Homo sapiens: one gene and its partners. The main gene of each other region encodes a partner of the protein of the gene in region 2 in a complex. Each region holds a gene or a part of one and is shown on either strand. Other genes may lie near its edges.

Evidence for each region.
Region 1: LAMTOR5 (region 2) and LAMTOR3 share a complex: the UniProt entries of both Homo sapiens proteins name them as parts of the ragulator complex.
Region 3: LAMTOR5 (region 2) and LAMTOR1 share a complex: the UniProt entries of both Homo sapiens proteins name them as parts of the ragulator complex.

The regions. Positions count from the first base shown.
Region 1 is NC_000004.12:99,880,770-99,884,522, reverse strand, and holds part of LAMTOR3 (ragulator complex protein LAMTOR3), read left to right. Parts: intron 1-397; coding exon 398-461; intron 462-2,455; coding exon 2,456-2,529; 3' UTR 2,530-3,753. UniProt on the Homo sapiens protein: As part of the Ragulator complex it is involved in amino acid sensing and activation of mTORC1, a signaling complex promoting cell growth in response to growth factors, energy levels, and amino acids.
Region 2 is NC_000001.11:110,401,095-110,404,847, reverse strand, and holds the end of LAMTOR5 (ragulator complex protein LAMTOR5), read left to right. Parts: intron 1-811; coding exon 812-929; intron 930-3,264; coding exon 3,265-3,325; 3' UTR 3,326-3,595; downstream 3,596-3,753. UniProt on the Homo sapiens protein: As part of the Ragulator complex it is involved in amino acid sensing and activation of mTORC1, a signaling complex promoting cell growth in response to growth factors, energy levels, and amino acids.
Region 3 is NC_000011.10:72,096,792-72,100,450, reverse strand, and holds the end of LAMTOR1 (ragulator complex protein LAMTOR1), read left to right. Parts: intron 1-1,194; coding exon 1,195-1,340; intron 1,341-1,592; coding exon 1,593-1,670; intron 1,671-2,035; coding exon 2,036-2,162; intron 2,163-2,536; coding exon 2,537-2,629; 3' UTR 2,630-3,159; downstream 3,160-3,659. UniProt on the Homo sapiens protein: Key component of the Ragulator complex, a multiprotein complex involved in amino acid sensing and activation of mTORC1, a signaling complex promoting cell growth in response to growth factors, energy levels, and amino acids.

The DNA of each region.
Region 1 (3,753 bases), on a different chromosome or scaffold from region 2:
CAGTAATACACAAGAACCAGAAAATATCATGAAGATAAAACTACTTGAATAACTGAGAAATACTGCATTTATCCATTTAATTATCAACTATTTATTAAGTCCTTACAATGTAATTGATATTCTGTTGGGCTTTAGAGATAAAAAGATGAAGATATGGTTTCACCTTAAAAACTTTCCAGGCCAAATGGTATTAATGTCTCTAAGAGATCATCACTAATTCTGTTTTATGGAAATATTCACTGAAATATAAAGTTCCTTTCTGTTTCATAATATAATACCATAATGTTGGGCTAAAACATTGATGATTTTAAAGTTTTTGAAAGATTAAGACATTTCAGTTTAGTTATACTACCTTTTCATAATGCAACATATTATTTGGCTCTTATTTTCTTTTTAGGTGGTTCAATTTAATCGTTTACCTTTGGTGGTGAGTTTCATAGCCAGCAGCAGTGCCAATACAGGTGTGTTTAATGACCTTAAATATCACTTTAATCCTTAATTTTAAAAAATTAATTTAATTACCATACCTTAATTTAAGAGGAATAGTAGATTTAGAGCCAAAAATCTTGAACTTGTGGCCCAGTTTCACTGTCTTTTTTCCATGTCTTGGGAAAAGTGATTTCTCTGAATCCTGGTTTCCATATCTGTATAATGGAGATAATATATGCTTTCTCCATCTTACAATGTTATTTTCTAGTTCAAATGAGACAGTGTATGGGTAAGTGATTTTTTTTTTTTTTTTTTGGAGACAGGAAAATTAAATGTTATCTGAGTGCTACATCTTGCTCCCATTACAGCAGTTTAAGAAAACAAGGTGAAGATAACCCAACAAAACGCATTAAAATGATCGATGAGTTACAGACCAATCTATTAAATTAGAATTTTTTAAATTTTACCTAATGGGGAAAATGAATGTGATTGAGAATTTAAAGAGCATGAATAGGATGAACATAGTCTCACTCTTCTTGAGAACTGAAGAATTTGAGAACAAATGCTAGGAAGCTGTACCCTTTATAGAGAATAGTAAAATTCCATTGTATCCAATACCTTCACTGGATATTTATGTGTAAAATAATGACTATTCACTTGGTTGTAATTTTTTTACTTCATTTTATATAAAGTAGGATTTTTATTAAAAGGTCTGTCTCCTTTAGATTTGATTGCTGTTGAGAATTGTAATATATTTTTTTCTATTTGTTTTTTCTTCCAAACTGAGCAAGTTCTTCTAGCTATGTCACTGAAGCCTGTTCTTAGATACCTCATCTTTAGAATGAGAGGTTTAGATTTGATGATCTATTAGATCTCTTCCATTTCAAAACATTTTAGGAATCTGTAAAATACTGTATGTAAAAACACTTTCTGAATTATATAGGATAGTAATGGTGTTAAGATTTTAAGTATATTTAGGAAATATACTAAATCTGAGTTTTGATAAATCACCTATCATCACATACTAAGTCACCAGTTGTTATATACTATGATAATGTACAGAACAATATTTTAGTACTTGGACCCTTTCCTTGAGAGTTCAGATGCTTTTTATATTCTATAAGACAGAGAAAGATCTTTATTTGTTTGAACATAAAACAGGCTCTGTTTGAGGCAGATAGCCTTTCACTCTAGTAAACTAAGGAGAAGCAAGATATGCTTATTTCTAGATGTTTATCTCCCAGGTTCATCATTGAACTCCAGTGTGTTTTGTACTCTACCATTTATTTTTAAAATATTTTTTCATTTGAAATATTTATTTATGTCTTAGCTTTGTCAAATTTATAAAAATAAATTTCTGATTTTCTTTGTTCAATATAGAAGCACCTATCTTTTGATATAATCTGTTAAAATTTGCTTAGAGACAAAAGTATGCTTTATTTAGTAAAAATCATATGTATTATTTCTGAGTCAAGGCAAATTTTGAAGCAGTAAGGTATAAATTAAGATTTTCCTTTCAAAACTCTTAACAAATTATAGTGCATATAATTTATTCTGTATTTCCTAATATATAAGTATTTTTCACTCATTCACTTTAGTAATAGATGCTGAAAATAAACTTATTAATGACTACAAAGTTTTTGGTTGCTTTATTTAGGGTTATAGTACAGGTTGAACATCCCTAATCCAAAAATTTGAAATCCAAAACATTCTAAAGTCTGAAACTTTCTGAGCACTAATATGGCATTCAAAGAAAATGCTCACTGGAGCATTTCATATTTGAGATTTTTGGGTTAGGGATGCTCAAATAGTAAGTATTGTACAAATATTCCAGAATTCAAAACACTTCTGATACCCAGCATTTTGGATAAGGGATATTCAACCTGTATTTTGTTTCAGTCATGGGAAATAAACTATGTTCTGATTTACTTTTGGTAACTATGTATTTTGGACATAAGGAAATCTGAGTTTCAGGCTTTGAGGAACATTTTTCTAACATGTAATTTTCTTAATCTCTTTATTTTAGGACTAATTGTCAGCCTAGAAAAGGAACTTGCTCCATTGTTTGAAGAACTGAGACAAGTTGTGGAAGTTTCTTAATCTGACAGTGGTTTCAGTGTGTACCTTATCTTCATTATAACAACACAATATCAATCCAGCAATCTTTAGACTACAATAATACTTTTATCCATGTGCTCAAGAAAGGGCCCCTTTTTCCAACTTATACTAAAGAGCTAGCATATAGATGTAATTTATAGATAGATCAGTTGCTATATTTTCTGGTGTAGGGTCTTTCTTATTTAGTGAGATCTAGGGATACCACAGAAATGGTTCAGTCTATCACAGCTCCCATGGAGTTAGTCTGGTCACCAGATATGGATGAGAGATTCTATTCAGTGGATCAGAATCAAACTGGTACATTGATCCACTTGAGCCGTTAAGTGCTGCCAATTGTACAATATGCCCAGGCTTGCAGAATAAAGCCAACTTTTTATTGTGAATAATAATAAGGACATATTTTTCTTCAGATTATGTTTTATTTCTTTGCATTGAGTGAGGAACATAAAATGGCTTGGTAAAAGTAATAAAATCAGTACAATCACTAACTTTCCTTTGTACATATTATTTTGCAGTATAGATGAATATTACTAATCAGTTTGATTATTCTCAGAGGGTGCTGCTCTTTAATGAAAATGAAAATTATAGCTAATGTTTTTTCCTCAAACTCTGCTTTCTGTAACCAATCAGTGTTTTAATGTTTGTGTGTTCTTCATAAAATTTAAATACAATTCGTTATTCTGTTTCCAATGTTAGTATGTATGTAAACATGATAGTACAGCCATTTTTTTCATATGTGAGTAAAAATAAAATAGTATTTTTAAAAATATAGTTTGAGCACTGTATAGGTCCTTTTTTTGTTCAGACTTTTTCCAAAAATCTAAACATAATTAATATACTCTTTCAGCCACATGAATAAATAATGAGTGTTTCTTGTAGGTATTGGTTTGGAGATTGTTTTACGGTAGTATGAACTGTTAACTGGAAAAGAAACCTGAGATTGCAGTCAGCCAAGATTGTGCCACTGCACCCCAGCCTGGGCAACAGAGACTCCGTCTCAAAAACAAAAAAGAAAAGAAACCAAGAAACCTCAGGCATGAACCTAATTTAATCTCCATGAAAGAGGTACTACAGTTCTAGAATATACCCTTTATGTTCAGGAATGCAGTCTATCATTCAGAGTTAATTTCTTTCTAGGCTCTTTGACAATCAGTTTTTCCCTGGATCAGTTCAGTACATATGCATTGAGCACCTGTGTGCCAGTCA
Region 2 (3,753 bases):
TCGAACTCCTTATCTCAGGTGATCCACCCACCTCCGCCTCCCAAAGTGCGGGATTACAGGAATGAGCCACTACACCCGGCCTAATCACGATATTTTAAGGTTATATAATATGTATAAAATGCTTACATAGAACTGAGACATAATACTTAATAAATGGTAGCAATTACACATGAGGAAATAAGTTTGGAAAGGTAAATAAGTAAAGCATTCAGTTAATTAGTGACAACTAGTAAACCCAAGACTTGTTGCTCCTAATGCAGGAATGTTTAAAGCTCTGAATTTTTGCTGGAAGGGTAACTGAAAGAGGTAATCGGTGTAACTCAGTTATGTTTAACATGCAGATCAGTCATTTGGGAGAAAAAGGGTAAATTTTTGGAAGCATTTGCTAGGCTTACTAATGGAAAGACTGAAATTCAGGTATGGAAATCTAAAACTAAATGAGTTCCTTCAAGAAACCTTCAAGGCTCAAACGTCGGCATCGGATCTGGTCAAAATGTTTTGTATAGTAATAGTACATCCAAATGCTCTGCCATAGTGGCATGTCTATTACCTGATTTGGTTTCAGGTACAGTTAACTTTGTGTTGCCTTTATATACAGAAATATATTGTAAAGTACACTTAGTAATTAATTTTCGTACCTAGAATTTATAGGTACTTTTGTACCCGAGATTTAGTTACTATAATATATACAGACTAATACAGACATTAATAAAAAGACAATTCTGTAGACATTTTAAAACAGCCAGCTAGCTTATTTTAGCAGAAATACTCTATGAGCAATCAGGTGACATATATCATCTCTATTTTCCAGGCCGCGGGACCCTGTCAGATGAGCATGCTGGAGTGATATCTGTTCTAGCCCAGCAAGCAGCTAAGCTAACCTCTGACCCCACTGATATTCCTGTGGTGTGTCTAGAATCAGATAATGGGTGAGTAGATTTCAGCAGATCCTTTCCTTTTTGTTCAGAAAAATTCCTGGTAAAATTGGCGGGGGCCGGCCCTGTGTTCATCAGTGATTCCTTATTCAGACTACTTTGGGAAAAGTTCTTAATCTTTTGAATCACAGGAACAGACAAGTTGATCCCTAAAGCTAATGTGCTCTCAGGCCACAATGCTATTTAAATGAAGAATAAGAATTGGCAGAAGCTATCAGTTTACCAACAAAAAGAAAGTAACAAATAGCACAAAGGAAAACTAATCAGAGAATAAAAATTACTTTTTTTTTTTTTCTTTTTGAGGCAGGGTGTTGCTCTGGCACCAGGCTGGAGTACAGTGGTGTGATCATGGGTCACTGTGACTTCAACCCCACCGGGCTCAAGCGATTCACCCAACTCAGCCTCCCGAGTTGTAGCTGAGACTACAGGTGTACACTACCACACCCAGCTAATTTTTGTATTTTTTTGTAGAGATGAGGTTTCACCATGTTTCCCAGGCTGGTCTCGAACTCCTGGGCTCCAGTAATTTGCCCGCCTCAGCCTCCCAAAGTGCTGGGATTACAGGAATGAGTCACTGCACCCAGCCAAAAATTACTTCTAAAGCAATAAAATTACTAAAGATATTCCAAGTGATGGTCCTCAGAATAATATGTGAAAAAAAGTATATATATACAACTGCTACTATCACAGCCTTGTAAAAAGAAAAAACATACAGTCATGCATTGCTTAACAATGGGGATATGTTCTGAGAAATGTGTCAGGCAGTTTTGTTGTATGAACATCATAGAGTGTACTTAAACCTAGGTGGTACACCCTATTACACACCTAGGCTGTATTGCTCTTAGACTACAAAGATTTGTAGCCTAAATAATGTAGGCAGTTATAACAGTGGTATTTATGTATCTAAACGTAGAGAAGATACAGTAAAAGTATGGTATAGGGAAATTTTTTAAAAGGTATATCTGAATAGGGCACTTACCATAATGGAGCTTACAACACTGGAAGTTGCTCTGAGTGAGTCAATAAAACTTTTTGACTTTATAATAACACTTAAAACAGTTGTACAGCTGTACAAAAATTCTTTTTTTAAACTTTTTTACTTTTTAGACTTTTTTGTTAAAAGCAAAGAAGAAACACACATTAGCCTAGGCCTGCACAGGGTCAGGATCATCAATATCACTGGCTTCTATCTCCACATCTTCTCCCACTGGAAGGTCATCCAGGGCAGTAACATGCATGGAGTTGTCATCTCCTGTAATGATGATACCTTCTGGAATACCTCCTAAAGGACCTGTCTGAGGCTGTTTTATAGTTAACCTTGTCTTAATAAGTAGGAGTAGTATACTCTAAAATAATGATAAAAAGTAGGCCCGGCATGGTGGCTCACACTTGTAATCCCAGCACTTTGGGAGGCCAAGGCGGGCAGATCACTTGAGGTAAGGAGTGTGAGACAGCCTAACCAACATGGTGAAACCCTGTCTCTACTAAAAATACAAAAATTAGGCATGGTGGCAGGCACCTGTAATCCTAGCTACTCAGGAGGCTGAGGCAGGAGAATTGCTTGAACCCGGGAGGCAGAGGTTGCAGTGAGCTGAGATCACGCCACTGCCCTCCAGCCTGGGCAACAGAGCAAGACTCCGTCTCAAAAAAAAGAAAAAAAGTATAGTAAATACATAAACCATAGCATAGTCATTTATTATTATCAAGCGTTACGTACTGTACATAATTGTATGTGCTATACTTTTTATGACTGGCAGCACAATTTGTTTACACCAGCATTACCACAAACATGTGAGTAGTGTGTTGTGCTATGTGATGCTGGGACGGTTAAAAGGTCACTAGGCAATAGGAATTTTTCAGTTCCATTATAATCTTACGGGACCACCATCATATGTAGGGTCCACTGTTGACTGAAGCATTGTTATGCAGCACATGACTGTATCATATACATGCAAAGAAAACAAAGACCAGTAAAGCCTTTTTTTTGTAGTTCCAGCTACTGAGGTGGCTGAAGCAGGATTGCTTGAGCCCAGGAGTTTGAGGCCAGCTTGGGCAACATAGCAAGACAGTGCCTAAAAAACCGAAACAAAGAACCAGGGAAATATTAACAGTGGTTGTCTGTGTGTAGTAGGATTAAGGATTCATTTCGTGTTCACATGCTATATGTTTATGTATTTCCCAAATGTTTTGTTATGTTTAAATATTGCTTTTATACGTAGAAACAATTACATTATTTTAAATATTGTATCCTAAAGCAAACAACATCTTTAATCTTGCAGTGAAGTCCCACTGATTACGTTTTACTGAATATTTTCTTCCTGCATTTCAGGAACATTATGATCCAGAAACACGATGGCATCACGGTGGCAGTGCACAAAATGGCCTCTTGATGCTCATATCTGTTCTTCAGCAGCCTGTCATAGGAACTGGATCCTACCTATGTTAATTACCTTATAGAACTACTAAAGTTCCAGTAGTTAGGCCATTCATTTAATGTGCATTAGGCACTTTTCTGTTTATTTAAGAGTCAATTGCTTTCTAATGCTCTATGGACCGACTATCAAGATATTAGTAAGAAAGGATCATGTTTTGAAGCAGCAGGTCCAGGTCACTTTGTATATAGAATTTTGCTGTATTCAATAAATCTGTTTGGAGGAAAATGGATCTTTTCTAGATTCTTTAAACTTAACCAAATGTTCCTTTTGTTCAGTTATCAAACTGTAATTTTTTTAAAAGGTCTTTGTTCTAAATTACTTTTGTTTAAGAAGCTTCCTGAAATACCTACATTCTCACAGGTATGTCCATGGATCCCACCCCT
Region 3 (3,659 bases), on a different chromosome or scaffold from region 2:
TAGATAGAACAGGGGACTGAAAGAGGACAAGGAGGAAGACCAAACCAATGAGGAAGCTTGGTTTGGTCTTACATTAGTTCAGGGGTTGTGATTATCAGCACAGGCCAGCAGGAACAGGGCTGCTGAAAATTTACATGGGCTACTCAGGTGGTTTAGCAAGGGAGGGAACAGCGCCATTGTTGTTTGTTTTGAGATGGGGTCTTGCTCTCTTGCCCAGACTGGAGTACAGTGGCACAGTCCTAGCTCACTGCAGCCTCAAACCCTGGGTTCATACAGTCGTTGCACTTCAGCCTCCCAAGTAGGTGGGACTGCAGGGCTCACACTACCAAGTCCAGCTAATTTTTTTTTTTTGCAAAGACGAGGTCTTGCTTTGTTGCCCAGGCTGGTCTCAAACTCCTGGACTCAAGCAATCCTTCTGCCTTGGGCTCCCAAAGTGTTGGGATTACTGGTGTGAATCACCATACATGGCTACAGCTGTACTGCTCAGATCAGGATACACCATGTACACTCAGTTTGGTTCTGGGAGTCACGTACAAAAAGAGCACCAGAGCACAGGAGGGTGAACACCTTCGAAGGGACCTGCCTTCAAGAAGGGAACACACTTGTACTGTGTGACCCAGAGCTGGGCTGGGATTCCTGCCCTGACATAATTTGAGAAATGGCCATGGAGAGGTTGGGCTTGCTTTCTCTTGGGGCCTAGGGCTTTGTCTGGACTCGCCAGGGCTTCCATCTTGGAAGCGAACAGCTTTGCTGGGGAAGGCCTGGTCCTAGGGGATGAGGAAGGCTGTTCTTGGGCTCTTGACTTGCACTGATTTCCCCTTTAGATCCCAGTGCTTGCTATGTCTCAGCTCCACTGTCTTCCAGCCTCTAGTATCCTTTCTTTGCCAGGTCCTAGAATGTTTTTCAAGCTCCAGGGCTGTTGCTGACTACCTGCTTTGTGCCTCTGTCCATTTTTTCAGGGCCTCTAGGACTGCCTGGTTCCACTCTCATTTATCCTAGAACACCAACTCAGTTGAGCTCCCAAGGATAGGCAGGAACTGAGTCTTATCTGGCATTCCATAAAGCTGGGCACTTTAGATATTCCTTATAGAAACATTTTTGGTGTTTAAGGTCAGAGCTGGGCTAAGGGTAGCACCCGTGAAAGGCAGGATCTACGGGTCCTGGGGCTGACTTCTCTCCCATGACCACTTCTAGGACCGAGAGGAGCGGAAGCTGCTGCTGGACCCTAGCAGCCCCCCTACCAAAGCTCTCAATGGAGCCGAGCCCAACTACCACAGCCTGCCTTCCGCTCGCACTGATGAGCAGGCCCTGCTCTCTTCCATCCTTGCCAAGACAGCCAGGTAAGTGTCAGAGGACCAGGCCTGGGTCAGAGCTCCTCTATCCATATTAAAGGCTAGGATAGAAGGAGCCAGGCTCAGGACATGGGGGATGGGACAAGGTCACTGGGGAGAGGTGCCTCCATGTCCAGCCCTGCTCCAGTAGGCAGGAGGGAAACTGGTGTCAGATAGCCCTGGAGTTGGTACCTGGCACTGAGTCCTGTTTGTCCTTCTCGGAAGCACCTGTCATGTCATCTCTGTCTCCTCTCCCCATAGCAACATCATTGATGTGTCTGCTGCAGACTCACAGGGCATGGAGCAGCATGAGTACATGGACCGTGCCAGGCAGTACAGGTGAGCACCTGGCCAGCGTGGGTCCCTCAGGCTACTTGGGCTCCCACCCTCCATCACTGTTCCAGCTTTGGAGCCTGGCCCCTAGTCCAAGCTTCTCATTTGGTGCAGCCCTGGAGACTGACCACAGATCACTTGGGTGCTTCAGTAGTTATTCATGTCAGCCCTGTTTACCCTGTGACACTCTTGAGGGCGCTGAGGCCAAGGGAGATGGGCCTAGATTGAGTCTGTGATGAGCTGAGACCTTCCCTCCCAGATACCCCTCCTCGACACCCTGCTTCTCTGGCCTGAGGGGATGAGGCTTACCTGGGCTGGGCAGGGCAGACTGTGGCTTAACTGCCTACCCCCACCCCCTCTCTCTTGGTCAGCACCCGCTTGGCTGTGCTGAGCAGCAGCCTGACCCATTGGAAGAAGCTGCCACCGCTGCCGTCTCTTACCAGCCAGCCCCACCAAGTGCTGGCCAGTGAGCCCATCCCGTTCTCTGATTTGCAGCAGGTGAGACACCCCTCACCTGCCCCTGCCCACCCTTCTCACACTGCCCAGGGTATGGCAGAGGGTTCACCCACTCTGCCTCAGAGGAGGTAGGGAAGGTGGAGTTAGGGAGCCTGGTAGCCTTGTAGGCCCCAGCTCCCTCCCACCTCGTTCTCTTAACTTTTTATGTCTTTCCTATCTCCTTCCTGCAACCTTTATTGTTTCACTCCCCTTTGTTCTTTTCCTTCTGTCTCTCCCATCCCTGTCTTTCTCTTTGCCTTCCTGTTCCCCTTCATTCCCTCCTTCTCCATCACCATCTAATCTCCCCTCCCCATTTTTCCTGATTGCCCTCCTCACCTGTCTCTGTTCCTCTCCTCCCCGGCCCCTCTCTGTCTCAGGTCTCCAGGATAGCTGCTTATGCCTACAGTGCACTTTCTCAGATCCGTGTGGACGCAAAAGAGGAGCTGGTTGTACAGTTTGGGATCCCATGAAGAGAGGGGTCCTTGGACAGCTCTTCTCCTCTCTTCATCCCATCTCTACCCCACCCCCTTGGCCCCCAGCCTCACTGCGGCTTATACAGTACCCTAACCTGCTACTAATCACAGAGAAAAATGTGAAGAAGGAGGAGAAGAGGAAGGCTAGAAGCCTGAGCAAGTGAGGGTAGAACCTTTTGGGACTGGCCTTTGAAGCTCTGGCCAGGGATGGGGTGGGGGCCAAAAGGACAGAGCCTGGTATGTCTTCATAGTCATTGAGAATGTGGAGATACCAGTTTGGGTGGGGGGTGATCACCAGGGGACCTAGGGAGATCCCCTTCCCACCCTCTCTGTTGGCCTCAGAGTCACTCCTGCCCCCTCTCCCTGACTTGGTGCTCACATGCACCTCACTAGGGTTTGTGACCAGGGTCTGGATGAGCTTGAATTTGAATGAATTGAGTTTGTATTTCTAGAACCCTGGGTTTTTACATGTTTGGTCTTTTTTTGTTTTGGTTTGTCACCCTCGATAAAGGAAGTATATTCATCCATGTGCTGGTTCTGGCCCCTCTGTTCTACCCATTCTACTTTTGATTACTTAGGTCTATGAGAGTAAGATGGGGGGAAGGGGACATCTTCCAGGGATATTGAAGATGAACCCAAGAGACAAGGGTTTAGGGTGTCAGCTCTTAGCTGAGACCTGGCTTGGGCTAACCTCAGACTGGATGAGACTGTTCTTGTCCCTTGTCCAGTGATGATGGGAACACTGTCAAAGCTGAACAGACCTGAATCTGAGGCAGCTTTGATTCTTGGGGGCCCTGCCTCAGACTCAATGGAATTACCAACAGCCCCTGGGGGTGAAGGGAGACATGGCGGGTTGGGGGGTGGAGAGAGAAAGCAGACCAGGCTCTTCTGGGAATACCTAATATGGAGTCAGCAAGCAAATGTTTTTAAGCAGAAGATTCTTTTTATCAAATGAAATCTTAAGCAGAATCCCAGCATATAAAACAGAATGGAATTACTTTGATCTGATTGAAGTGGGGGCTGGTTT